7 separate regions of the Homo sapiens genome follow, and regions 2, 3, 4, 5, 6 and 7 are each linked to region 1. The links come from fine-mapping of genetic effects on gene expression. A gene starts in region 1. Each other region holds a variant in brackets. All regions are shown on one strand. Distances are between the middles of the regions.

Region 1 (4,069 bases):
GGTGGGCTCCCCACCCTGCCCAACTTTTCTTCATTCTCCATGGGCCGGTGGTTTGCCTAGTCAGTCCCAATGAGAGAACCTGGATATTTCAGTTGAAGGTACTGAATTCACTTGCCCCTTCTCATTCCTCCCTGAGTGCTGCGGGCAGGGGCTTCTAATTGGCCATTATGGATTGATCTCCCTGCAGTGAAGTGTTCTAAGTAGGAAGAACACATGGTATTGTGGAAAATCAACATAGCATGGTGGCTCAGAAATAGATTCTGGAGCCAGGCAGGTTGCTTGGTTTGGAATTCTGGTCCTGCAACTTACTGCAACCTCTCTATGCCTTAGTTTCCTCACAGTTTAAAGAGGGATAAAATAATATCTATAGGTCTATTTGCGAGGTTTTAAAATTCTTGGAATAGTACCTGGCTCATTATACATGCTATAGAAATGCTTATTCAATTAAATAAATAAAAGCATCTTTGGTAAGATAACTCTGAACATTGTATGGTTTAGTAGAGGATGCTGACAAGAATAAATAATTAAAACATATCATGAAGTAAGCATAAAAGATAGTGGTAATGCAAAGATGCGAATGAGCTCTGCTTCCTGTGATTAGTGTGAGCAGACAAATTCACTGTACTCAGAAGCTTAAAGCCTAGCGTGGGAAGCTGACATGAATGAAAACCAACGGGAAAAAATGTTAGAGTAGAGGTGTAAGCAAGAGTGATTAATTTCAACTTGAAAGCAAATGGGGGAGGTTTCACAGAGAGGGGCCCAGCATGTTGGTTGATTGCTTGGGCTCCAGAATCAGGCCAGCTCAGTTTAATGCTGACTTTGTACCTCACTGGTTTTGTGACTTGACCTCTCTAATCCTCCATCTCCTTATCTGTACAGTGGGGGGAAATAATAATGATAATAATAGGTAGCTCATAGGACAAATAAGAATTCACAGTTAATGCATCAAAAATCTTAGCACAAGGCACTCAATAAATGTGAAGCTTTTATTGTTATTACGAGTTGAAACTTGAGTGGGAAAGAACTTCGTTCACATTAAACATGAGAAAAGGCCCAGAAGTTGAAAAGCATTTGACATAATTAAAGAACAGCAAGTCAGTGCCACTTAAACGGTAATCCAACCACCGCCAGTCAGTGAACAGCTTTTTACTGCTCCATGAACAGGTAAGTATAGAAATTGTGAGTAAGCATTTAGAAATAAAAACAACAACAACAACCAATAATTGAAAAACTAATTTTATACTTTTTGGCATACTCATTGTACACTTGTAATAAAAACTGGGCTTGTAGTTTTTGTCTCTTTTCTTATTTGCTAGCAGGTTTTGATTTGTATTTTACAGAAATAATGGTCCATGTCAGATTGGAAATAATAAAAACTTGTCTTTTACCCTTGATAGTTTGAGAAAAAAGTAATTCAGTGGGGTTAGATATGGCATCCGAGAGATGATTCGGGAAAGGTGGGCCAGGGCCATGTTTATGTGGACCCTCCAATGCCTCAGAGTTCACACTTGTTTCAGTGGGCAACAGGACTAGTAAGGTTTAGAGGGACTGTTAACCGAAGGTGAGTGGACTTTGCACATTTTATGGTATTTTTTTTTTCCCAGTAGGCATGTGCTTATTCTTTCTTTTCTTTTCTAATTAAAAGTTCTGTTTGGTTTTTTTAGTTAAGAGGAGAGACTGGAACTGCTCAGTGTTTCACAAAGATAACTGTTTGTATTTGATAAGAGTTTCGTTAAACAAAGGAATTTGCACTTATCAAAACATAAAGCATTGAAAACACTGAGCACATACTCTGTGACCAGAATGCGTGTGACTTGTTGAGATAAGCCACACCGGGTAATCAGATGAGTCTCCTTTCTTCTTGGGCACCCTCATATAATTCAGGCACAAACGAAAGAGAAAACGCTTTTTCTGATCTCTCAGTTCGGGTCATCTCTGCCTTCCATCATCACCGCCTAACAATCCTACACCTGGCAGGGTGGGAAAACGGTTTAATAATCTCTTCCCTTTGGGAGGCGTTTGACAGCTCAGAAAGCATGGCCTTTACTCAGGCTCAGAGACACACAAAAACCTTTCACGTTTTCCTTTCAGCTTCGCAGCCCCGTCCTTCTCCACCTGCACGGGCACCCACTGAAGCACAGGACCCTTCTGCCAAGCCATGAGCCTTCTCAGGCCCCTGCCGCCCGCCTCGCCTGAGGCTGCGCTTCTGAAAAGCACGCGGCCCTGGCCTGCGCACCACCCAGTCTGAAGGCGACGCCCCTGCACGAAGGAGTCAGGCCTAGGGGCTCGGGACCCAGGGCGACACTCAATTTTCTAACAGGAGCCACAGCCCAGAAGCTGAGAAGCCTTCCGGCCGATCTGTGGCCCTGAGGTCGCCCTTGGAGGGCGAGTGAGAACCCCCCAGGCGTTCCGGAGGTGGCCCCCAGCCCGAACCCGGCGCCCGCCCCGGCTTCCCGAGTCAGGTCTTTGCCCCGCCTCTCGGCCCCGCGGCCTGGCCGGCAAGCAGGGCTGCAGTCACGGGGCGGCGCGGAGGGCCCCAGCCCAGTCAGGGGTGTGGCCGCCGCCACCGTAAGGCTAGGCCGCGAGCTTAGTCCTGGGAGCCGCCTCCGTCGCCGCCGTCAGAGCCGCCCTATCAGGTGTGTTTGCAGCCGAACTGGCAGTGCCCGCGGGCGGCTGGGCCGAGGCCTTGGCTCCTACCCGCGGGGGTCGGGCGGGCTGAGGCTGGAGCAGGCCAGGGGCGGGGGCAGAGGGGGACGGACTTCCAGCATCGCTCATTCGGGGGCGTGACGGGAGGACCTGGCTGGGGAGCGGCGGGTTGGGAGCCTGTGGCTGCCCCTTCGGTGACAGTGGAGTCACCGAGCCTAGAAATGGGGAAGCTGTGACGTGGGGGTGGTGGAGGGTGCTGCGGGACAGCAGCGAGCACGGCCCTCAGCCGTCCTTCCCAACACGGTTTCACTTCCCCTCAGCTCCAGGGCTCAGCCCCAAGCCGCCCCCTTCATCCCCCATCTGCAAACAATCCTGGTCCCCCTGAGCCTCCAATATGCCTTATGCAGTTCTTTTGGGGTTCCTTTCGCATTTTACCGTGTACTTTCGCTTTTGATGCGTCTAGTTTCTGCTACTGGACTCTCCTAGAATCGAAGTTCCATGAGGGCAAAGTCCCATCTGACTTAGGACTCAGAGCTACTCAATAAGTAATTGAATGAGTACCTATGCCGTAGAACTGAGTGAATTAACAAATGAGTAAGTGAATAAATGAGTGCATACGAGATACAGCTGAATCAATCAGTGCATGAGTGAAAATAAAGATGTATGAAGTGGAAGCAGTGGAGACGCAGGCTTACAACTCCTGTTTTTTGATAGCTTTCCAAAAAGTTGTGTGAATGTCGCACTTTTGCAAATGGAGGCATTCTGATTGGGACCACTTAAAAAGAGTTCTATGCTGTTCAAATGGTCTCTGGAAACGCCCCCTGGTATTTCCATTTTTGTTGGACTTGGCTATATGTGTTTGCTTAAAACAAAATATGCCTAGGTTTTTTCTTGCTTGTGTTTTGTTCACTTCTACTTTGGACGTTTAAAGAATCATTGTCACTATAATATTATTTCATGTATTTCTTAAAGATAAGGGTGACTCTGAAGGCAGAACCATATGACTCTGACTTGTTTGTAAAACCAGGCTTTTCTTTTGAATTCAGAGTTGTTAAGAATCTTGTCTGTTTTCCTGAGACAGGTGCTGGCTGATTTGCAGGTGACTGAAGAAGGCTACATAAGGCCCAGAAAGACGCTTATCTGTTTGTAAACAAATAGGCTTAGCACATAGCTTTAATACAGTTGGTCACTGCAGCCGTTCTTACTTGCCAGGTCCAGGTTCCAGAAGAGCTGGATGACCTTGGACTTGCCACTTGATCTCTTTAGGTTTTAATTTCTTAATCTCCAAAATGAAGATGTTTAGCTAGGAACCCTGCCTGAGTTAAACCTCTGGGATTCTTTTGTATCAGGGTTAGAAGGTGAAATTACAGATGATTTCATGGAGTTCTGCTTACTTCACCTCCCATAGCATTTTGTCTCTGCT
Region 2 (4,069 bases), 410 kb after region 1:
GGGGAAAAGGGGGAGATAAGGAGTATGGGTTTGAACCTGTTAAGTTTGAGATATCAGACTTTCATGTGGAGAGGTCAAGTAGGCAGTTTGGTAAAAAGTATAGAGTTCAATGAATTGACATTTCTCAAAAGAAGATATACAAATGGCCAACAAACATATGAAAAAATGTTCAACATCACTAATCATCAGGGAAATGCAAATAAAAACCACAATGAGATACCACCTTACCCCTGGGAGAATGGCCATTATTAAAAAATCAGAAAACAATAGATGTTGTCGTGGATGTGGTGAAAAGGGAACTCATACACTGCTGGTGGGAACGTAAATTAGTATAGCCTCTATGGAAAACAGTATGGAGATTCCTCAAAGAACTAAAAGTATATCTACCATTCTATCCAGCAATCCCACTACTAGGTATCTGCCCAAAGGAAAAGAAGTCATTATATCAAAAAGACACCTGCACATGTACATTTATCACAGCATGGTTCACAATTGCAAAGATATGGAATAAACCTAACTGTCCATCAATAGATAAGTGGATAAAGAAAATGTGTTACATACATACCACGGAATACCACTCAGCCATAAAAGAGTGAAATAATATCTTCTGCAGCAACTTGGATGGAACTGGAGGCCATTATTCTAAGTGAAGTAATTCAGGAATGGAAAACCAAATACCACATGTCCTCACTTATAAGTTGGAGCTAAGCCATGGGTATGCAAAGACAAACAGGGTGGTATAATGGACACTGGAGACTTAGAAAGGGGGAGAATGGCAGGTGAATGAAGGATGAAAAACTACCTATTGGGTATAATGTATACTATTCGGGTTACGGGTGCACTAAAATCCCAGGCTTCACTGCTATACAGTGCATCCATGTGACCAAAAAACCACTGTACCCCTAAAGTTATTGAAATAACAAAATGTTTTAAGTATAGAGTTCAGGGGGGAAGTCTACAGATAGCCATAGGCATGGAGTTTTCTTCATATAAATGCTCCATCTGAATGGAAAATAATAGTTACCCTCTCACAACACCCCTGTCCCCCTGTCCAATGGAAGCTCAGCTTCTATGTTTTCAATGCTGTGATTGTTGGTTTTGCTCTCCAGGGAATATAGTGCCCTTAGAGGCTCTGTCTCTTCATCTTGAAGATCCCCTGGTCCTAGGGTCTGGATTCTCCACAAGCCTCCTTTATCACATCATCATGATCCTCACTGGAATCAGTCTCTCTGAACTGTTTTCTTCCTCCTCCTGATGTCTCACTCCCCTCTCTCCTTTCTCCAGGGCTATTGTTGCCACCAGTTCCTAAAGCCATTGGTTGCACCACCTTTCCTTCAATAAGTCAGCTGATGTAATTGGATAGAGATGGTTTTGTGGCTAACTTTTTCAGCCTTTTGAGGTTCAAGTCCATATTCTGTAGACAACTTGAGGCTTCTTTAGTCATAAAGCCAAATAAATAATAACTCAACTCTCACCTTCAGATTCTCCCTGACCAAGATCATTTCTCCCATTTTCTAAATAGGCTGAAGGAAGGCAAGGGCTGAAACGGAGACAGGATGCTACTGCAGTACTCCA[C/G]GTGAAGGCTGGTGGTCGCTTGGACTGAGTCAGAACAGGGAAACTGATGGGAAGTTGTCGGAGAGTAAGTCTATGTTGAAAATAGAGCCAACAAGATTTGTTGATAGATTGCATTTTGGGTGTACAAGCAAGAGAGGAGTTCCAGAAGAAACCAACTCTACCAGCACCTTGATTTTAGCCCTGTAAGGCTTATTTCAGACTTACAACCTCCAGAACTGTTAGAGAATAAATTTTTAGGCCGGGCACAGTGGCTCATGCCTATAATCCTAGCACTTTAGGAGGCCAAAGTGGGTGGATCACCTGAGCCCAAAAGTTCAAGACCAGCCTGGGCAACCTGGCGAGACTTTTCCTCTATAAAAACACAAAAAAATTAGCTGGGCGTGGTGGTGCACCTGTAGTCCCAGCTACTCAGGAGACTGAGGTGGGAGGATTGCTTGAGCCTGGGAAGCCAAAGCTGCAGTGAGCCAAGATCATGCCACTGCACTCCAGGCTTGGTGACAGAGTGAGACCCTATCTCAAAACACACACACACACACACACACACACACACAAATTGTGTTGTTCAAGTCAGTGACTTTGTGGTAATTTGTGACAGCAGCAATAGGAAACTAATACACAATTAGACATCTAAGTGGAGGTACTGAGTAGCTGTGGGATATGAGTGTAGAATTCAGGAGATGCATGAAAATATGAATTTGGAACTCATCACCATACAGATTTATTTAAAACCATGAGCCTAAATAAGGGTTCCAACACAGTAAGTGTGATAGAGAAAAGAAGAGGCCTTTAGTCTGTTTCTGAGCACCCCAATTTCTATTGGTCAGGAGGATGAGAAAACCAGCCAAGAAAAATGAGAAGGATCATCCAGTAAAGCATAAAAAGAGCCAAGAGTCTGAGGTTCCAGAAGCCAAGGCAAGAATGCATTTCCAGGAGTAAACAAATGTCAAGTGCAGCTCCATCACAGGTTTGAAATTTGGTGCTCACTAATGGTTTCCACTTTAAATTTTTTGCTAATGCCTACAAAAATTCTAGGAGGGACAACCAATGTTTGAGAGTGAGATACTCTACAGAACATGCTTATATTTATCCTTTTAGAGATTGCCTAAGCTCTGATCCTCTCTTGGAAAGCTACATTCTGGACATTAGTTGGATGCTTAGAATAAAGTCATCTGTTCATTTGACAAGTATTTTCAAGTGCCCGTTAGCTAGGTTCTGAGAATATGCTGATGAACTAACAAGATCCCTGCTCTCATGGGAACACTTTCAGTCTAGGGTATTTGCTGAGGCCAAACATCACCTCTTTTATCAAGCTTTTGCCAACATTTTTCAGTAGTTGCTTTCCCTTCTTTGTACATATTCATAGAACTCATCACATTTAATGTATTAGCCAGTTATTGCCTCTGCTGGTAAACTCTCCCCTCCTTTAGGAAAGCAACCCTATCTTAGTCATCTTCATATATAGATACCCTCATATGTAGGTTGGAAATATGATTTATTATTAAAACCAGGAAATGTCTGCAAGAGAAAGGAGGCTCTGTTAATTAACACCAAGACAGGGGATGTAAACTGGGACTTCCTAGGGCAAACAAAAATGTATAGTCACCCTATCACTCAAGTTTACGTCAAAATAACTGTTGAATAAATACATTTTGCTTCCTGAAAAAACACATTTACTGAAATGTGACTTAATATTTTGCTTTTGGCTTTAATTGAGGATCAATATGTAAGAAATAGTGTTAGGAAAAGTGTTTCTGCATCTTTTGTAAAACTGTTATTGGAGACTGTGTCCATTATTTTGTCCAGCGTTCCTCATATAAAGAGCCATGTAATTACTCCCCTTAGAACTGAGCGCTAGAAAAAAATATTGCTTTTTTCAAGGAGATGGTGGTGCACTTTCTCTTCCTAGATAATGAGAGCTCAGTAATACATCAATCACGCTCTCACATTGGCAGCCACAAGCTAGAGCTAAATTATATCCTCAAGTTGCTTTTAAGGCTGTGTCAAAATGTTCCAAATTGTGACTTTTCCTTTGCCTTAAACATTTATTGTTCACCTACTATGTGCTTAGTTCTGTTATTTAATCTAGAGATATGGCAGAGATCCACACACGTGATTCCTGTGTTCATGGCATTTTCTTGGTTCTAGCACATTTACCTACTCTTTTAGTACAGTATTTGGACATTTTCTTGTAGAGAGCCTTAAATTTTTGCAGGAGCAAGGCAGGCATTTAAAAAAAATTGAATGAAGTGCAATAGGCCAACAAATTAGGGAGGGGTATGGACGGTAGTCACAGAAGGCTTGGGCAGAAGTAGGGCATGAAGTCACTTGAGCAGACCAAGGAGCCCTGAAGTTCATATTTTGGTACTTTTGTTTTTCATAAGGTTTCAAACCTGCTAATTTTCTTTTGAAAAAGAAGAAGGAAAGGCCCGCCTAAGAAAATATAATTATTTCTAAAGTTGTGGTTAGCATCTTTACTAATATTTGTAAAGAGTAC
Region 3 (4,069 bases), 420 kb after region 1:
TTGAGAACTTGTTTTGAGCCTACCACCTGACCAAACAGCATCACCACCATTATCTGTAAAATATTTACATTTACAGGGCAAGAAAGAGTTACTAAAATTGATTGCCCTGTGTCAGTGTGGAGTTTACTTCTTTGAAGAATAAATTGAGGAGGCTACATGATTAATTCAAATAGTTAGGAGTCTCTTTTCTTTCCACTTGATCTTGAGACTTCAATGTCACTTTAAGTCAAATTCAAAGACATGTTGAGAAACATGAGAAAATACGTTTATTTCATTTATTTTTCCATGGTGGTCTCATAAGTTATTTTTTCTAGGTTATGAGAAGATAAAAAACTTTTAAACAAAGAAGCCAAATTTGGAGAGAAAGGAGCTATTATTGAACTTGGGTCTATGTTTCTGAAAAGTAGCCTAGAATTTTATAAAAGCAAAAAACAAAAACATCATCCTTGTGTTTATATTAGGAAGTATTTTAAAACATGCAATATGTATTTTAAACACTTTTCTTTTGAATCTTGCGTTGCACCCAAAGAATGCTAATGGTAACCAAATTGTTCTTTGGCAGAGTAGCCTGACCCTTAAAAAAAGGAACAGAAGTGTTACAGCATGTGATTGTAGCACAAGACAATTATGAATCCTCAACCCTGAGCAGATATTAACTAATCCTATGATCTGACCATAAGAGGTTACCTTGGAGCATTCCTCTACATTGCATTATGTATATTACATGGTAATGAATGACAGTTTTCATGGCTCCTAATAATGAGCAGCTTCTCTTTATTTAGAGAACAAAATAGGGGGTTTACAGATAATATCTGAGTTTATCATTGAGCTGCTCAGCCTCCTCTTCTATGTGCCTCAGCTTGTCTCAATCAGTGCTGGTTATCTCAGCAATAAAGCATTCAGCCTCTAGAAGTTGGTTTCTTCCTACACCCTATAAACAAGAGGATGAATATCTTGTTACATGTGCTAAAATGAGTTGGGTGAAATGAGCATTACTCTGCTCCCTGTCACTAGCTATAATCAGCTTTTCAAATCTATACTGAGTGTGTCCCCACACATAGCACACTAAGGAATAAGGATGTTCGTGACAATATATTCCTGAGAAGCAGCAGTTCTAACATCCCAGTGACAGCTATTCATTCCAGTTTCTTTGTGCAGAGACATTGTCCCAACTCCTTCACCATGTGCTAACAATTAGATAATGACTCCATAAATGTAGAGAAAAAGCAGTGTCATGGACGGTGGGTAGTTTGTTTTCTTAGTTCTTTATTGAAAACATATGGAGATGTTTATATATAAATAGAAAACAATAAAACGCTGCCATCATGTAAGCAGCAACTTAAAAAGTTCTACACGAATAGAAATCAAACATTTCTATACCTATGCCAGAATTCTGGTTTACTGATATCTACACATCCTGTCTTATTTGGCTTGAAAAGATGTTTTATTATTTTAGGCTTTTTATTTATAGTTGGAAGCAAATTGTGGAGCAAGAGATTTTTGTTTTTGTTTTCATTTCTTTCTTGGCTTAAACAAATTACTTTTTTAGCAGGAACAACAACTTCTGTCCAAGTATACCTTGTGTTATGATCATGAAAAAAAGTTTTTAATGTATACATTTAACTACGGTCTTTGTATTTCTGAATTAAAAGTGAGGACTTGTGGCCTGACAGAAGTGACTTTCAGGAGACCCAGCAGTGGAGAGGTTGAGAGCACTGCTTAGGAGGTAGAAGCAATTCCTCTGGGTTGGAATTCTGGCTGCACCACTTAACTAGCTAGGTAACCGTGGGAAAGTTAGTCAACCTGACTAAACCTCAGTTACTTCATCTGTCAGATGAGAAATATAAGAGCACTTAAAGAATGATCATGCACACTCATGGGATGAGCTGTAAGACGTTACACATAGTGTCTGGCTCGTAGGAAACATCACAGAAATGCTGCCTAGCATCGTTGTAATCAGCTAACAGAAGGGCTTATATTGAGACCATCCTTGAAAATCTGAGAAGTGTTGATGCTCAGTGCCAAGAACAGTAACAACAGTAATGCTACTGTTTACCAAGTGCTAGTTATGCCCTAGCCTTTACAATGTACTGTTTTTGACAATTCCATGAGCTGGGTACCATTATCATCCCCATTACAGCTAAAGATTGGTTGATGTGAGGGTCAAACCCAGTCTGGATCATTCAGAAGCCCACACTCTTGATCTCTCTGCTAAAATGGCTGCCACATATATAGCCTAGGGCACCTTTGAAACCTTCTTTATTTACACTATTCTCTATGTTCCTGTCAACATCCTGTGACATTGCACAATGGCATTCACAAACTGTGAAGTCCCCTGTCCCTAGGACATCTGTTCATTTGTAGTTAAAGAGGA[C/A]CAGGAAACACTTAATGAACACATTATTAGAAGCCCTGGTTTTCAATTCATGCAACCATTTTTGCTTTGGTTTAAAGGCCTTTTCTTTAAAGGTGCTTGAAGCTTCATATGGACAGGCTCATTATTCAAGCTTTTGTCCCAACCTACAGATGCAGAAGCCAAGGACCAAAGTAACATGACTTGGGGACAGAGGGAGAGGCCATTCACCTGCCTTGGTAGCCCAGTGTATCAGTTGCTGAATCAGGAATACAACAGACTGAGCCCAGGGCAGTGTCCAACTCATCAGGCTGCTCATTAATGTTGGGTCTAACAGCCAAACTGCTAACTAGCTCCACTTTTTAAAAACTTCTATTTTAAGTTCAGGGGTACATGTGCAGGTTTGTTACATAGGGAAACTTGCCTCCTGAGAGTTTGTTGTACAGATTATTTTCTCTCCCAGGTGTTAAGCCTAGTACCCATTAGTTATTTTTCCTGATCTTCTCCCTCCTTCCACCATCCACCCTCTGGTAGGTTCCAGTGTGTGTTGTTCCTCTCTATCTGTCCATGTGTTCTCACCATTTAACTCCCACTTATAAGTGAGAACATGTGGTATTTGGTTTTCCATTTCTGACTTAGTTTGCTAAGGATAATGGCCTCCAGCTCCATCCATGTCCCTGCAAAGGACATGATCTCATTATTTTTGTGGTTGCATAGTATTTCCTGGTATATATGTACCACATTTCCTTTATCCAGTCTATCACTGATGAGCATTTAGGTTGATTCCATGTCTCTGTTATTGTGAATAGTGCTGCAGTAAACATACACATGCATGTGTCTTTATAATATAGAATGATTTCTATTTCCCCTTAACTGGTATATACCCAGTAATGGGCTTGCTGGGTTGAATGGTAATTCTGTCTCTAGGTCTTTGAGGAGTCGCCACACTGCTTTCCACAATGGTTGAACTAATTTACACTCCCATCAACATTGTATAAGTGTTCCCTTTTCTCCTCAACCTCACCAGCATGTACTTTTTTTAGTTTTTAATAGTTGCCATTCTGACTGGTGTGAGATGGTATCTCATTGTGGTTTTGATTTGCATTTCTCTAATGGTCAGTAATATTGAGCTTTTTTTCATATGCTTGTTGGCCACACGTATGTCTTCTTTTGAGAAGCCTCTGTTCATGTCCTTTGCCCACTTTTTAATGGGGTTGTTTTTCTCTTGTAAATTTGTTTAAGTTCCTTATAGATGCTGTATATTAGACCTTTGTCAGATGCATAGCTTGCAAAACTTTTCTCCTGTTCTGCAGGTTGTCTGTTTACTCTGTTGATAGTTTCTTTTGCTGTACAGAAACTCTTAATTAGGTTCCATCTGTCAACTTTTGCTTTTGTTGCGATTGCTTTTGGCATCTTTGTCATGAAAACTTTGCTAGTTCCTATGTCCAGAATGGTATGCCTAGGTTGTCTTCTGGGTTTTTATAGTTTTGGGCTTCACATTTAAGTCTTTAATCAATCTTTAGTTGATTTTTGTATGGTGTAAAGAAGGGGTCAAGTTTCAACTTCTGCATGTGGCTAGTCAGTTATCCCATCATCCTTTATTAAATGGGGAACCGTTTCCCCATTGCTTTTTTTTTGTCAGCTTTGTCAAAGATCAGATATTTGTAGGTGTTCAGCCTTATTTCTGGGCTCCCTACTCTGTTCCATTGGTCTTGTGTC
Region 4 (4,069 bases), 200 kb after region 1:
CATGTTCACATAATGGTTTCAAGGGGGTGGTCAGAATGTGGCCTTCTGCTCCTTTCCATCTGTGGCTCTATCATTTTTGAGATCTGAGTTCTCTGCAGAGTCTTCTGCATTCATCTGACGCATAAGGGGATAGAGAGAGAAAGTCGATAACCTAGAGGGAGATTTTCCATGGTTATCCATATCTAGGCCTGGATATGGCACACCTCACTTCTGCTGACATTCTATTGGGCAGAATGCTATTACATGGAGGCTAGGAAATTTGGCCTATCTTTATGTCCAGGGTGAAAGGAAAGTGAATTTGGTGAAATACTGCCCAGTCTGCCCCAATTGCCTGTCTCCACACTAGACTCTAAGTTCCAGAAAGACATTGATTACGTGTATTTTTTAACCTCTGGATTCCTATCATCTAGTATAATGTTTGAAACATGGTAATAACTTAGGAAATGTCTACGGAAGGAATGAATTTGTCTGAGGATGTAGAGTAAATCATGGCAGGGCTCTCGTAACAAACCAGCTGACCCGGTTCCTGGTGCTCTTTGTCCGAACTATGTAACCCATGTATAGTAAGTTTGAAACAACTTGAACTTTTAGGGTACTTTGCTCTGCATTTGGAGGAAAATATTCAGATGCCCAATATGCCAGATTATACATTTTTTCTGCCACTACACTTATGAACAAAGATGTTTTGAGTTGCTGATTAAGGAAAATAGCTCCCTTCTCTCTGAAAAGCATTTCACCTCTATGGGAGTGGGTGATACTGGATTTCATCTAAAAATATTATAGAGGTCAGCAACACTAGAGAACATTATATTATATATATATATATATATTATGATTTGTTGCTGTTGGATTCAAAATTTGAGAATCCCCTGGAGGGTAGTTTGATTTGACCAGTTTGATTGGACACTTTGTGGTGTAATCATCAATATCATCAGCCATTTTGGGTCTGCAGTGGTCACACAGTTGCATGACAGATGTCCTGAAAAAATGTCCATTGCTTGTTGTCAGCATCGTCTCCAGGTTCATTATTGTTATTCTCTGTGTTGCCATTATTAGTGTTCTTGGGCTCAACTTTACTTCTAGGAGATATTCCCTTTATTAATGCTTTTCTAATGACACTTCTTTCCATCACCATTATCAACTGAGACCCCCCCATTAGAGCTTTTTTAGTTTTTCTGATGGTAAAATACCTTTCTTTGCTTTTGTCCTGGGAAATATGTTTTAAGAATAAATGCAATTAATTAGAGATTTAAGTCCCACAGAGGAAAGCTTCTCTATGGAACAATTTGTCTTGCATTATTTCTCTAATTTATCATATTGTTTAGTACATATTTCTTGAGAGCTTCCTAGTTGCTCAGAAATTTCCGAGTACTAGGATTACTAAGGTGAATTCCATGTGTTTTTTGTCCTCAAGAAATATTTTTATGTAGCCAAAAGAGAAGGGGGTAAGAACATGTAAGTGATTAGTGTTATTTATTTTATATTTAGTGCTAAGTGAATGATTGGGGGAAAGGGATAAAGAAAGGAAATTACTATTTATTAAGCACCAACTTTGTACTATTCTAAAGGGTTAAAGAGTTTGTCTCAATTAATTCTTTATGTAACCCAATAGAAGTAGATACTGTATTGGTATCTCTTTTACTGAAGGAGAGACAGGTTCAGAATGATTAATGGCTTATCATGCTACACATCTAATGAAAGAACTAGGATTCAAACT[C/CAG]AGTCTCTGGCTCTAACTTCCATGCTGTTAGATTGTACCAAGCAACCTGGAGAGCTAATGCTATAGGAATCTAGAGGAGATAACAGAAATCTGATTGGGGTTGGTTGCACTGACAATGTGGATTTGGGGTGTGTTCAATAAAAAGGCAGAATTGACCAAGAGAAAGGAGGTGGAAAGACTCTCTGTAAATATCAAAGCAAGGTGGGACTGCATGATATATTTGGGTAAAACACAAGCAGATCAGTTTAGCTGGAGCCAGGCCTCCTAGGGGGTCAGAGAAATGCAATTCTGGGGTGAGAGGAAGAGACCAGGCTTGAAGAATTCAGGGTAGCAGATTAGGCAGTTTTAAGTCTAATGTGGAGGAAATGGAGAACCATGGAATGTGTTAAAGATATGGGGTGAATTTTACAGCAGTGGTTCTTGAAGTGTGGTCCCTGGAATAGCAACATCAACCTATCTAGGAGCTTATTGATGTGCAAATTATTAGGCCCCACCTAATACCCGTTGTATCAGAAAAGCTAAGGGTGGGGTCCAGCAATCTGGTTTAACAAGCCCTCCAGGTGATTCTGATACACATTAAAGTTTAAGAACTACTGTTTTAGAAAGATCAATTTGGCCATTGTGCATAGCATGCATTAGACAGGGAAGGACAGGTTACTCCTCTAATAATGCAGATATGAAGTAATGAGGGCATAGATGATGGCAATTGGAATGGAAAGAAATCAGCAGGAGGCATAGTATGAGAACATTAGAACTTGGGGATTGATTGTATTCAAAGGGGGAAGGAGTAGGGGTCCAAGTTGATAGGCAAGGATTAAAATCTATGGGATGAATCTGTATTTAGTTCAGCCCAAAATTTAAAAATCTTAAGTTTCAAATAACAATAAGGATTTGTGGTTTTAGAGAAAAACCAGATTTGGTGATATATCTTGTATGTTCCATTGGGCAAACTTCAGCTGAGCAGATTAGCCATCAAATTCTTCTTGTTGATGGGATGTCCCCCCTCTTATCTGCCAAGTTTTCCCCTCTTTTTTTATATACTTTATTCATTTATGTTGCCTATTCGAGTCCTGTAGATATTTGAGCTGATGATCCCTGCTCTAAGGATCCCAGCTTGGGGACAGGAGAATAAGAAATGTAGGGGTCGGGAGAGGGAGCTGGCTTGGAGGGAAACCAGCCAGTTTGGTTTCTAGACATTTTGAGTCCGAGGCAACTGTAAGATAGTCCCATTAATCTGGTCTTTATATTTTGCAAGAAAAACAGTTCAGCATTTCCATTTCTCTGTTGTCCGCTTTTTAGATCACCCAAGGCAGTTTAAAATTCTAGGCTGGCTTTCTTGCAATACCTTGGGACTTCTGCCTCCTGCTTTCTTAGCATGCGAGCTCAAGAATGCAAAGTAATTTTTATATTAGCCCATGTAAAATATAATTCAAAAGGTAACTCTACTGAGGCCAAACTGTTTGTTGTATTCCCACTGCCACACATACATTTTTTCCTAGTTATTTTCTCCATTGCCCCAGATAGTTGAACAGGGACTGCGACTTTTAATCAGCTAAGGAAGCAAAAGACTTTCTCTTCACTTTACTGTGAAAATTGCATCACCACACTGGGTATGAACTCATTGAGGTGGGAATGAGTTGTTGATAGGGCTTGGCTTTGGAAATACTACTGGCTGATGTTTTATATCACTTGGCCTTTGTGTACTGTATTGACAGAGTATAGTGAAGAGGAGGAGGAAGAGGAGCAATTTAGTTTGAAGATGACTAAGAGCTGATTAAACATTCAGCTGGGGAGAGAGATGAGTGAATCCAGGTGATGTTTATGGAGTGTCAGAGAGGGAGAATGCTATACCATCTGGTGAGAGAGACATGAAAAAGTACATAAATCAATCTCTATAATGATACTTAATTAATACAGAGTTGATAAATGACATAATTGAAGCAATGGGTGGGCTACATCATAGAGTTAAATAGCTTCAAAGAGGGTGCTGATTAAAGCCATTACAATTTATAAAACATTCTTCATGTTAAGAAAGCATCTTGATGAGATTTCACATGAACATTTTGTAATCAGAGGGCCAGCTTAAAACACTCAGAGCAGAGGTGAAATGTCTTAAGAGGTCTATTTTGGATGATTTTTGAAAACCAGTTATTCTCAGGGAATAAAAAAGCTTGCTTTCCCCACTCCCTTTGTTTTTTAATGGGAAAAAAATTAATGTTGCATTCTTCACCTTTAGACAATCTCAGATTTTTGATGTCCTGGTGGTTTGGTTCTTAAGCATGACCTTAAGATAATTAGCTATCAAGCTTCATTTAAATTGTTTTGAAATATCATTGCAATTTGGGGAGCATA
Region 5 (4,069 bases), 210 kb after region 1:
CTCTGGGGCTTGGTTTTTAATCTCCAGGGAGGCAAGGCTGACAAAATGTCATCTATTTGCCTACTAAGGAAAGAAGCTGTGAAATAGATCTCCATTGCTTATGCACCTCAAGTCGCTTAGTTCCAGCTGTATCCATAATATCATGGTGTATTTAAAATACTGCTCATTGCAATCCTTTTGAAAAGAGATTCTGATGCTCGTAAATACTCCAAAAAGGCATTAAGGTGTTACACTGATTTTTATTTTTATTTTATTTTATTTTATTTTATTTATTTATTTATTTATTTATTTATTTATTTATTTATTGAGATGCAGTTTTGCTCTTGTTGCCCAGGCTAGAGTGCAGCAGTGAGATCTTGGCTCACCACAACCTCTGTCTCCAGGGTTCAAGCGATTCTCCTGCCTCAACCTCCCTAGTAGCTGGGATTACAGGCATGTGCCACCACACCTGGCTAATTTTATATTTTTAGTAGAGACAGGGTTGCTCCAAGTTGGTCAGGCTGGTCTGGAACTCCTGACCTCAGGTCATCCACTCAGCCTCCCAAAGTGCTGGGATTACAGGCATGAGCCACTGCACCTGGCCGCTTTTTATCTTTAATTGGATTTATTCCCTTTAGAAAACTTAAGTTTGTGGATTCATATCCAAATATTGCCCTTTACTGATCTAGCTTTTTCTGCTGTAAGTTCTAGGAACCTTTTAATTCAGAGAGGGGTAAAGAAAAGAGCTAGCATACACTCAATAGCTTTTATGTTTTGGATGCTTCATAAATATCACCTCATTTGGACCCTTACAAGAGCTTTGGGAGGCAGGGAGCTTTAGACACATTTTACACCTGAGTAACTTGATCAGGACATTTTGAAAAAAAGGTTTTTGATTATCTGTTTTTCAACTTGAGAGAGTCGTGAGATAACTAAACTACAAATGAAAAATACGTAGGTAAGTCTCTTTGTAAGGTCATATTCGTAAAGGTTGCAAAAGAGACCAAACAATGTATTCCAATTGAGAAGTCCAGGTAGAGTATTTGGTTCATTTGTGCTGCTATAACAGAATACCATAGACTGGGTAATTTATAAAGAATAGATCTTTATTTCTCACAGTTCTGGATCCTGGGAGGTCAAAAAACAAGGCACTGGCAGCTTCTGTTGTCTGGCAAGGGCTGTTCTCTGCTTCCAAGATGGCACCTTATTTCTTCATCCTCCAGAGGGGAGGAACGCTGTGTCCTCACATGTGGAAGAACAGAGGGACAAGTGAACCAAATCTTTGTGTGAAACCTCTTTTATAAAAGCCTTAATCCCATTTATGAGGGGAGGAGCCCTCTTAAAGGCCCCACCACTTAATATCATCACATTGGCCATTATAAGTGTCAACACCTGTATTTTGGAGGGGACACTTTCAAACCATAGAATAAAGAAAACGAAAGGGGGAAAACTGCAAACAAATGTGCTATGAGATTAGATGGATTTGAAGGGGACTCGACAGTCTTGGGCCCTTTGTTTTGGAAGATGGATTTTGAAAGTTATCTTTTATTGTATTCCTGTGAGGCCCATTTGTTTCCTACCCTTTTCTCTTGTCCCCCTCTTCCTTCTCTTTATTCAGTATCTTCCTCTGGCAAATAGCAGTTACTAAATTTGGTTCTCTGTTATCTTCCAACTCGAAAGGCAAAAGGCACAGGCAGTACCCTCCTGGTAATTATTTATGATATTTCTCCTTCCAGAGATTTGCCCTATGGCAGCTTCAATCCGTTACCATCACTTTTTATTTTTTTGCCCATATTGGCAGCTTCCCAAGACTTTGGGAGGAAAAAGCAGATCTGCAGATACGCAAACCTCAAAATCAAGACTTGGTTAATGAAATCACTCCTCCACTTGCCCTTGCCTGTTACTGAATCCTGTTCCAGCTGGGATGGAAAAAGTGCATTGGTCATGCTGTCAAAAGCATATCACATTTCTCCACTGCTATTTCCTTCCTTCTTAACTAAAAACAAAACAAAACACCATAGACAACAAATAGACACACACACAAAAAAAAAGACACTAGGTGA[G/C]AGTGAAGGTAGTTTGTACTATTTTCATTTTTCGTGTGTTCAATCGTATTTCTCTCAGCAAATATGATTGGAAGTGGTGCTTTTCCTTCCTTCCCCACCTTCCAGCATTAGGTTTGTAGGTGAACATAAAAATACACTGACACTCAAAGAAAGAGCTCTTTCTGCTCTGCACACATCCCATCTCGCCCTCTTCCTTGCTCCTGCTTATTTCTCTCTCTTTCTGCCTCCTTACCTCCTTCAGTTTAGAGCTTAGAGAAGTTTTTCACTCTTCTTTTGACAGGTGTCAGATAGACAGTATGAGCTCATTTAAGCTGAACTGTCTGGGGGAAACTAAATTTGTTCAGGAGAATAGCAATTTGGATGACAAGTGCCAGGACATACCAGATGGCACGGCTGGAGAAATTCTTATCGGGCTCCCAGCTCACGTTCCAGGCGGCCTCTCTGTCTCTCTCCTCTATTCTTATTTGTTCATGGTTGACCCAGATGGAAACTTGAAATGCAAATGTATTTCTTCTTGGAAGTTTCCAAGTAAAAAAGGTGATAGTGACTCAGCATAAGATGCTTACATGCCCCCAAAAGAATAGCCAGTACTTGTTATTTATGCTTATTACTACTGATGCTTCCCAGACCCCTGTGGGCACATATTTGAAGAAGTCTTAATTGTGAGCCCTAAACTGATTGTGTAATTCCAGTTGTTTACTAAAATAGGACTGTTACCTAAGCTGCAAAATATTTGATGTTCTTGTCAGGATGTGAATGGAAGTGTTCTTAAACATTCTTCCTCAGTTGCCACACAGTTTGACTGATTTTGTTGGCCCTCACTTTCCAGAAAGGGAACCGTGGACATAAATGTCATGGGAAGGTATTTAGTAGAAGGTGTGATTTTTGGGGGCGCATATGAAACATTCTAAAATTCAAGGCCAGGGCGCTGTGACAGGCTCTAATCTATGAATCATTATATTCTTAACATATTCTGAGAACAGGAAGAGAAAGCTCAACCTTTATAGACACAGATGGAATTTCTCCTGTGAAGACTGGTAATTCATGTGACATTTGCTGTTTGCTTTTGTTTGCAGTCAAATTCTTTCTCTCAACCTTGCACTGTGCTGTTACTGGTCACTTAACAGACCTTCTGAAAGAGCAATATAAGTTTATATTTTAGGTACACAAACAAAGCAGATGTTTATAATACTGGGCATGATTTTTTTTTTTTTTGGTCAATATTTGGTTCACATGAGAAGATCAACTTTTTCTAGCCTGTATACTTTGGCTCTGAATTTACGTGTTTTGAAAGGTTTGTTGTTGTTGATAATTTAGTGATGAAACTTACTCGTGGAAAAGGCTTATTGTGAGTGAATAAATAAATAGTATAGGCTAAAGTGTGTGTAGCCTACATTATTTGGTAGTGTAGTGTACACTCCACATACTTTTATCATTTTAATTTTCTACTAAATTATGCATGTCCTGGTATTAGGATTCCCATAGTCATGGCAAAACCAATGATGGTAACGCCATACTTATCTGGAGGTTAAAGTTTCATTAACAATTTAAGGTGGAAATCAGAGAAGAAGGCCTCTGAGCCAGCCTAATAGCTATTCTAACCCCACACAGCAAGGTAGTATATTGTATTGCTGCTCTTCTCACCAAGAGCTTCTGGGCCTTTAGCACATTATTTTTAACATGTTTAAATTTCTGGGTTTTGTGGACACATCACATTAGCAGATGTGGGAATGATAGAGGTTATTTTGACATACAGAGAGGAGACAAGAAAACGGAAGTGTAACCACAAAGCTGGGTTGCCACATCCTATGGAGGTGTAAATTCATAAGGATAACATTGAGTCACCCAGAAAAGTTGTATTGTGTCTTCCTTTTAAGAAACAATGTGGGCCGGGCGCGGTGGCTCACGCCTGTAATCCCAGCACTTTGGGAGGCCGAGGCGGGCGGATCACGAGGTCAGGAGATCGAGACCATCCCGGCTAAAACGGTGAAACCCCGTCTCTACTAAAAATACAAAAAATTAGCAGG
Region 6 (4,069 bases), 530 kb after region 1:
TTAGGTTGCTCTCTAGTTTTCAGCCTTGTTTGTGTCCCCTTAAAGCTGCCATTTGGAAAGCTGAATTTTCAGAATGGGATTTGGCAAGGCAAATGGAGCCTCAGTTGGGAGAGACTATCTGTCCTGCAGAGAAGGTTATGAAAAAGGACAGGATGGTGGATTCCAGCAGCAGGTTTAGAGAAAGAAAAAAAGAGCGATGTACATACTCACATACATAAGCATCTTGAACTGCTTTTATGCAGAGCTTGGGTTCAGCAAGTCCTTAGCATATTTCAGCCCAAAACCCTTGTCTTATTTTATTTTTCACCCTACGATATGTTTCAGAAAAAAATGTAATCTGCATCTTTCTAGTTCTTCTGACTTCAATTTTGTCCTTCAAATTTATTAGCCCATCTTTTAAACTCATACAGCTATTCTTATATAACAACTCCACTCTTCTATAGCTAAGTAGATGTTTATGTCTTTTGTGTTTATGTCAGGGATTTGTTGTGAGAAAGTAGGGGGAAGGTTGCTTCCAAGAATTTGAAATTTCTTTTTCAACCCAGAAGTTTCTAAGAGTCACGAGCATCTGCTCTGCTAGTCTAGAGGGCTCAAGTCTAGGGCGCCTTTTGAGGTATGATGCTTCATTCCTTGGGCTCTGATGTGGGACTGAGTTTGCTTGCAATCTAGGACCTAATATCCTAACTATTTCCTTCAGCATCAGGACTGGTTATGCCCATCTCAAGCCAACTTAGGGTTAAATGTAAGAAAACGTTTTCATTGTAGAATGCAATTTGCCAACCAAAACTTATGCCAAAACTGAAATCTGAAGGGAGAGAGAACAAAATGGGGTCACTTTTACGAACTTTTGCCAACCTGGCTGGGCTAAATGCAGCACAAAGCAAGAGAACTGGTTTTCTAACTGCACCTCGGGCAAGCACAGTGACAGAAGTCCTTTAGGAACCACACATCACCTGCAAGACATGGAGAAAGTGGAGATTCAGCAAGGAGCTGGATTCTTTGCACAGATAATTTCAAACTTGTCCTTTCCCTGCTCTTTCAACTGGTGAGATACTCTGCAAGATTTTCTGCCTCATCCTATTTTGTTGCCAACCTATCTCCACTCAATCCAGTTTTGCCCAGATATAATTAATGGCAACAAGAGCTTTCCAGCCTACAAAATTAATGTGGAAATGGCTGAAACAGTGTCTTGATGGCAGAAGGAAGAAACATTTCCTTATAATTTGCCATGCAAACAATCCGCTACATCCGTAACTGTGCCTTTTCACATGCAAATGAAGGAGCCAACCTGATATATGATCTTAATTGGGCCTCTTTAGGAAAGGAAGTCACATCTGAACTTGGCTTCAGGAACTTCTACCCGCATTCACCTTAGTACATAAGGTCAAATGAATATTTTTTAAATGAATGCCTCACTGTATTTCTTTCCCTGCCTCCCTAGGCTATTTCATTCAGATTCAAATCTCATAGTCCAGGCATTAATACTGACAATTCATCTGACTGTTTAACAAAAAAGGGAGATAATTTCTTACATACAGAAACAGATAAGCCACTTCCTCAGATTTGATGAATTTAAATGCCTAACTTCATCTTAGAAAGAATAAAGCCAGTAATAGTGAGAGGAAGTCAGAAGTGGGCAGGGCAGACCAGGTAGGCCCTTATAAGCCTTGCTAAGACTTTGGATTGGAGGGTTGAAAGCGGGACATGACATGATTTGAATTAATATTTCCTCTTTTTATTTTATTATTATTTTTTATAAAGTTAGGATTCAAATTCTATTTAGGATGCTATTTTAAAAAGAGAAAATGCAAGACCTGAGAGAACCAGAAATCACCAGTCAGGAGCTGCCATATTATTTTCAAATATTCTCCTCTAAAAGTGGAACTGCCCACACAACACGAGCATACTCATTGGTCTTGCCACACAAGGAAGAATTTGTGAGAAAAGTCAAAATTCAGTTTATAACATTCTTTCTCCATAAATGATCAGAGGATATCAACTTTTTCTTTATGATATGACTTAGGCTAAGAACTGTGATCCTGGATGAAACTTAGCTTCCTTGGCCTCCCTGGCTTCTGCCTATTGTCAGGCCTCTGAGCCCAAGCCAAGCCATCGCATCCCCTGTGACTTGCACGTATGCCCCCAGATGGCCTGAAGTAACTGAAGAATCACAAAAGAAGTAAAAAGGCCCTGCCCCACCTTAACTGATGACATTCCACCATTGTGATTTGTTCCTGCCCCACCTTAACTGAGTGATTAACCCTGTGAATTTCCTTCTCCTGGCTCAGAAGCTCCCCCACTGAGCACCTTGTGACCCCCCGCCCCTGCCCACCAGAGAACAACCCCCTTTGACTGTAATTTTCCATTACCTTCCCAAATCCTATAAAACGGCCCCACCCCTATCTCCCTTCGCTGACTCTCTTTTTGGACTCAGCCCACCTGCACCCAGGTGAAACAACCAGCCATGTTGCTCACACAAAGCCTGTTTGGTGGTCTCTTCACAC[A/G]GACGCGCATGAAATTTGGTGGATCAGGGGACCTCCCTTGGGAGATCAATCCCCTGTCCTCCTGCTCTTTGCTCCATGAGAAAGCTCCACCTACCACCTCAGGTCCTCAGACTGACCAGCCCAAGAAACATCTCACCAATTTCAAATCCGGTAAGTGGCCTCTTTTTACTCTCTTCTCCAACCTCCCTCACTATCCCTCAACCTCTTTCTCCTTTCAATCTTGGTGCCACACTTCAATCTCTCCCTTCTCTTAATTTCAATTCCTTTCATTTTCTGGTAGAGACAAAGAAGACACGTTTTATCCGTGGACCCAAAACTCCAGCACTGGTCATGGACTGGGAAGACAGACTTCCCTTGGTGTTTAATCATTGCAGAGACACCTCTCTGATTATTCACCCACATTTCAAAGGTGTCAGACCACATAGGGAGGCCTGCCTTGGTCCTCCACCCTTAGCGGCAAGTCCCGCTTTTCTGGGGGAGGGGCAAGTATCCCAACCCCTTCTCTCCATGTCTCTACCCCTTCTCTGCTTTTCTGGGGGAGGGGCAAGTACCCCTCAACCCCTTCTCCTTCACCCTTAGCGGCAAGTCCTGCTTTTCTGGGGGAGGGGCAAGTACCCCAACCCCTTCTTCAGTGTCTCTACCCCTTCTCTGCTTTTCTGGGGGAGGGGCAAGTACCCCTCAACCCCTTCTCCTTCACCTTTAGTGGCAAGTCCCGCTTTTCTAGGGGGCAAGAACCCCCAATCCCTTATTTCTGTACCCCAACCTCTTATCTCTGTGCCCCAATCCCTTATTTCCATGCCCCACCCCCCCTTCCCACTTTTCTGGAGGGTAAGAACCCCCAAAACCCTTCCCTCCGTGTCTCTACACCCTCTTTTCTCTGGGTTTGCCTCCTTCACTATGGGCAACCTTCCATCCTCCATTCCTCCTTCTTCTCCCTTAGCCTGTGTTCTCAAGAACTTAAAACCTCTTCAACTCACACCTGACCTAAAACCTAAATGCCTTATTTTCTTCTGCAATGACGCTTAACCCCAATACAAACTCGACATAGTTCCAAATAGCCAGAAAACGGCACTTTCAATTTTTCCATCCTACAAGATCTAAATAATTCTTGTCGTAAAATGGGCAAATGGCCTGAGGTGCCTGACGTCCAGGCATTCTTTTACACATCAGTCCCTTCCTAGTCTCTGTGCCCAGTGCAACTCATCCCAAATCTTCCTTCTTTCCCTCCCGCCTGTCCCCTCAGTCCCAACCCCAAGCATCGCTGAGTCTTTCTAATCTTCCTTTTCTACAGACCCATCTGACCTCTCCCCTCCTCGCCAGGCCGAGCTAGGTCCCAATTCTTCCTCAGCCTCCGCTCCTCTACCCTATAATCTTTTTATCGCCTCCCCTCCTCACACCTGGTCCGGCTTACAGTTTCGTTCCGTGACTAGCCCTCCCCCACCTGCCCAGCAATTTATTCTTAAAAAGGTGGCTGGAGCCAAAGGCATAGTCAAGGTTAATGCTCCTTTTTCTTTATCCCAAATCAGAAGCGTTTAGGCTGTTTTTCATCAAATATAAAAATCCAG
Region 7 (4,069 bases), 400 kb after region 1:
GAGAGGCAATCAAACTGTTTTGTCATTTGAATTAGGAAAGGTCAAAGGGAAAGGAACATAATAGTAGACAGACAGAAAAGTGCTTTGTGAAAATTACCCATTTTTTCCACGTAAGGAAAAGTAATTTGTTTTTTTTCAGTGCTAGAGATTTTTGTTTTGATAGATTTACAGAGAGAAAAGAAACCACCAAGAATTTTGAAAGGTCCCATTTCCCAAACAAATATGTAACAAGTTCTTACCATTTAAAAGATGGCATTATAATCTCTTGCATCTATGTGATCATTTATAAATTACGCTTTCGTGGACATCAAGTCATTGATGATAGTAATGACCCTGGTGGTTGCCAGACCATGTACTGTTTTCCTTATTTCACACATGAAGAAACAGAGGCTCAAAGAAGTGAAGAATGTACCCAAGTTTGCATAGCACAGCCCATAAGGTGCAGAGCCTGAACTTGGACTTCAGCCATGACTTCTATGACCACATACTTCTCTGTCACCATCTTAAATGTAGATATCTACTAATTTGTCATAAACTGAAGGACATACATAGCAGCATATTTAGGAATGCTGGATAATCAGTAACATATAAATAGATGAAAGGAGAAGTTGCTTCAAGGTGCTTAGTTTAAAACACATATAGCATGGTATCAATTCTATACAATGGCCAAAGGATATTGTGTAACCATGCAGACATCAGTTGTCACTAGTAATTCTCAATGTTTTATATTCACACTTTCTTGGTATAAAAATAAATATTTGTATTTGTTCACGAAGTTAATTCTATAAATCCTGCTACAATGAGTTTTAAAAAAATAACCAACAACACTTCACTTCAGTCATCTGTGTAATTTTCCTTTAGTTTGGGGCATTTTCTAGGTAAAGTTTTAGCTAAACAATACAGAAAAATTAAAAAGTTCAGAGATCTTTTAATGATATGAAAAACTGTTTCTAATAATAATAAATGTTAAAATCATTTCACTATTCAAAAGACTGCGTTCAGAGCGGAGGCACCCTAACATACTACTCTAGGACATTTCTCACTGCCTTCATCTTCAAATAAAAGTGAGAATAGAACCCTAACCTTTGAGAGATGGAAATAATGCATGTATATGTCTGTTTTTATATCTTTCCCATGTGTATAGAGCTTAGACACTCTATATGTGAAGACCCTCCAAAAATCAAGTCTGGCTTTCTTCTTTCAGGATAACCATTCCCGAAACACCAAGGACAGGGATACATCAGAATGGACCCCTACCTGTGCTATATTTAAAGATCTCCAAGGATAGAGATTTTACGTATGTCAGTATTTTTTAACACTATCAGACAATGAGAATATTCCTGGCCAGGTCCACTTAGTGATTTCTTCATTGAAGGATACAATTTAGAAGATTGGAGGAGCAATTATAAAAGAAAGTAATACAATTTAGAAGATTGGGGGAGCAATTATAAAGGAAAGTAGCTGTAGGTCTCCAAAAGTTAAAGTCCCTTAATCCCAGTTGCCTTAGTAGTTCTTGCATGAAAGCACTAAGGAAGGATCAATGACTGGGAGATGGGATGAATTCTGAATTGCAAAAGAGACATTTAAATATTACTTGCAAACTAAACTCAAAGCACAAATAATTTAACACTGTTTTGTTTTAGTTTCTAAAAAAGTGGACTCTAATTCATTCTTTCCTTGTTCAGGAGATAAAACTATTTGTAACCTTTAACATGTTCTTTTCTTCACAGTTGAGAGCTCAGTTTGTTAATACTTTCTTTCCCAAACTGTTTTCTGAATGTATTGGAAAACTGCACCTGCCAGAATGGATTGGTGTTTGTTCTTCTTCAATGAAAGGTGGCTGTGATCAGGAGCTGCCCCTTTTAGAGAGCTTAAGCTGCCAAAGCCTAATACAACAGAGGTGGAACGGAAAATGAGAATGAAGGACATATTCAAAAATTTAACAAATTGTTGGTGCCTCAGGCATGAAGCCCATTGGTTTCCAAAGAATTTGGCAGAAAGATTTCTATCTTCTCATCTTGTAGGCAATTACCTTAATATGGCACACTTTTGTGATGGCTTTCATTGAAAGGCTCTGTTTAAACATCTTTTTCTGAATCACCAAGATAAGAATG[G/A]AGCAAATGAAGGGAAAAAAAATATTCACTTGTACACAAAGCTGCTACCTTCAATTCTCTGAAATTGTAGTTAATGCCTAATTATACTGACATTCCTATTGTACAAAAGTGTTGAGAATGCAAATATAATTTCCCAGCTAATTATTTCATTACATGGAAGTGACATGAGTGAAGTAATAAATTAGCATCGTCTTTATAAGAACCAGCAATTCTGGACTTTATAATATTGAAATTTTCAAGTGGAGTGAAGTGCTTTTTTCTTATGACTACTCTGATTAGGTGAAAAATGCCTTTTAAATTTATGTGTATAATACACCTCCTTCCTTCAGCAGATATTTTACCATTAATATAGGACAGTGATATTTATGTGAGTACATTATTACTGAGAAGGAGACCCAAAGGATGTCAAAGGGCAGAGCTGCCAGCTGCGACAGTCTGGCTTGTACTGCTTTTCTTAAATGTGGTTCAAAGCAATCAGATTATGAATTGCAGTGAAATAAACTTACTTTTATTTTTAAAATACAACCACCATTAACAGCTCCCCAGTTAGAACAACTGAATGTCAAATAATTGCATTCTCAAATTTAAACTAGAAAATAGTAGAGCTTGAGGAAGGGGAGTGGAAACTCAATAGTGACACATTGAGATGGGTTAGAAGGTATTCAGTTCTCCATTTCTTTGATTTAAGGATCGTCAATTGTTAGTGGTGCGATTAAAATTAATACAAATTTTCAGGAAAAATAAAACTACATTAAATGCACAGGGGTTTTTAAACTGACAATATCATACAGTGCCCAACACTTTTGTTTTTAGAATCAATCCATGTCTAAAATACCTTCAATCCAGAGTCTGCAGATGTCTCTGAACCCTTTGGTCATTAGCAGTGAAGCATTGGCATTAAGGTGCCAGGCCACTTTGTGTCACCCATGCTCCTTGTTTTGACAAGGTGCTAAAGGTGTACCCTTGTGGTTGGCAGCCTATTACAAGGCATATTGAACACGTTTTTCCTCTGTACTTTCAATTTGGCCAAGTTTTTTACACTTAATTTTTAATTTTAATATTTCTGTAAGCCATATAGCTTCTCCTGAAACTCTAAGGGAGCTTTTGGCAAATTGCTTAGTACCTGAGTGGGAGGCCTCCATGATTCATGGCTGGCTACACCAGTCTTTGCTCACCTTGAACACTCTAGAGTCTATTCTGAAGATTTGGCGATTTCTATTGTTTTTCATTGTTTTGCCTCACACATGAAAATCAATCTTCTGTGTACATCAAAATATAATGAAGAATTTTAATCAATAATTATGGACTGTAATTTAAAATTTAATGATCTGTGTTGATACCAGTGTAAATAAGTGAAGTGTAAAATACATTATCCAGGGCCCTTTCTGTGTGATGAAGTTTGCATGTGGACAAACAATGACAATGAATATATGAATACAATACAATGAATATGTTTGTTTATTTGCCTAGAATTTGGTAACTTTCTTATGGAATGCATCAATAACAAGATACATTCCAATTTCCAAAATGCTAAAAAAGGAGAATACTGTGATTCTTACATTTAGGGAAATATGGTATTTTATCTTTTGAATTTTATACTGGCAGAAACAGGAGATGCAAAAAATCAGAAAAACAAGCCAGACGTGGTGGTGCACATCTGTAATCCCAGCTACTTGGGAGGCTGAGGCAGAAGGATTGCGTGAGCCCAGGGTTTGTGATCAGCCTGAGCAACGTAGCAAGACCCCATTTCAAAAAAATTAGAAAAATTGTGCTTAAGTAGCCTTTTGGTCCTGATTTGCTTGAGAGTCCAGCTTGTACCCATTGTCCTGACATAATCATTAATAGAATCCCTTTTCACTCTCAAAAGTTTCCTGGCCTACATAGCAACTTAAGTAATGGTTACTCTACTTATTAGTCACTTTTGTTGGTAATAACAATGCCTCGAGAGAACAGAA

Direction of the effects. Alleles are on the strand shown, and positions count from the first base shown. SD is a standard deviation of normalised expression in the study named. Not every link is listed here.
For the expression in gastroesophageal junction of the gene that starts at base 2,476 in region 1, allele C in region 4 goes with a lower level than allele CAG (small effect, 0.14 SD a copy in GTEx).

The links.
Region 2: its variant is fine-mapped to the expression of CPQ in whole blood (TOPMed, PIP above 0.99). The same link has a PIP of 0.9 or more in blood mononuclear cells and lung.
Region 3: its variant is fine-mapped to the expression of CPQ in whole blood (INTERVAL, PIP 0.97).
Region 4: its variant is fine-mapped to the expression of CPQ in gastroesophageal junction (GTEx, PIP 0.98).
Region 5: its variant is fine-mapped to the expression of CPQ in whole blood (INTERVAL, PIP above 0.99).
Region 6: its variant is fine-mapped to the expression of CPQ in whole blood (TOPMed, PIP above 0.99).
Region 7: its variant is fine-mapped to the expression of CPQ in whole blood (TOPMed, PIP above 0.99).

The regions. Positions count from the first base shown.
Region 1 is chr8:96,642,767-96,646,835 of GRCh38, forward strand. It overlaps CPQ (carboxypeptidase Q), which reads left to right and starts at 2,476. Exons shown (of 8, transcript NM_016134.4): 1 at 2,476-2,636. RefSeq lists a silencer at 2,351-2,900.
Region 2 is chr8:97,054,007-97,058,075 of GRCh38, forward strand. The region is part of intron 6 of CPQ (carboxypeptidase Q); the gene reads left to right. All of the region lies in intron 2 of LOC101927066 (a long non-coding RNA gene), which reads right to left. Among named protein-coding and RNA genes, the nearest start is that of TSPYL5, 220 kb to the right of the region's middle. The variant C/G (reference allele first, on the strand shown) is at 1,576.
Region 3 is chr8:97,059,761-97,063,829 of GRCh38, forward strand. All of the region lies in intron 6 of CPQ (carboxypeptidase Q), which reads left to right. The region is part of intron 2 of LOC101927066 (a long non-coding RNA gene); the gene reads right to left. Among named protein-coding and RNA genes, the nearest start is that of TSPYL5, 220 kb to the right of the region's middle. The variant C/A (reference allele first, on the strand shown) is at 2,375.
Region 4 is chr8:96,838,283-96,842,351 of GRCh38, forward strand. All of the region lies in intron 3 of CPQ (carboxypeptidase Q), which reads left to right. Among named protein-coding and RNA genes, the nearest start is that of CPQ, 200 kb to the left of the region's middle. The variant C/CAG (reference allele first, on the strand shown) is at 1,718.
Region 5 is chr8:96,850,321-96,854,389 of GRCh38, forward strand. The region is part of intron 3 of CPQ (carboxypeptidase Q); the gene reads left to right. Among named protein-coding and RNA genes, the nearest start is that of CPQ, 210 kb to the left of the region's middle. The variant G/C (reference allele first, on the strand shown) is at 2,043.
Region 6 is chr8:97,172,946-97,177,014 of GRCh38, forward strand. All of the region lies in intron 2 of LOC101927066 (a long non-coding RNA gene), which reads right to left. It overlaps LOC105375655 (a long non-coding RNA gene), which reads left to right. Exons shown (of 2, transcript XR_928434.3): 2 at 1-4,069. Among named protein-coding and RNA genes, the nearest start is that of TSPYL5, 100 kb to the right of the region's middle. The variant A/G (reference allele first, on the strand shown) is at 2,505.
Region 7 is chr8:97,046,834-97,050,902 of GRCh38, forward strand. All of the region lies in intron 6 of CPQ (carboxypeptidase Q), which reads left to right. All of the region lies in intron 2 of LOC101927066 (a long non-coding RNA gene), which reads right to left. Among named protein-coding and RNA genes, the nearest start is that of TSPYL5, 230 kb to the right of the region's middle. The variant G/A (reference allele first, on the strand shown) is at 2,115.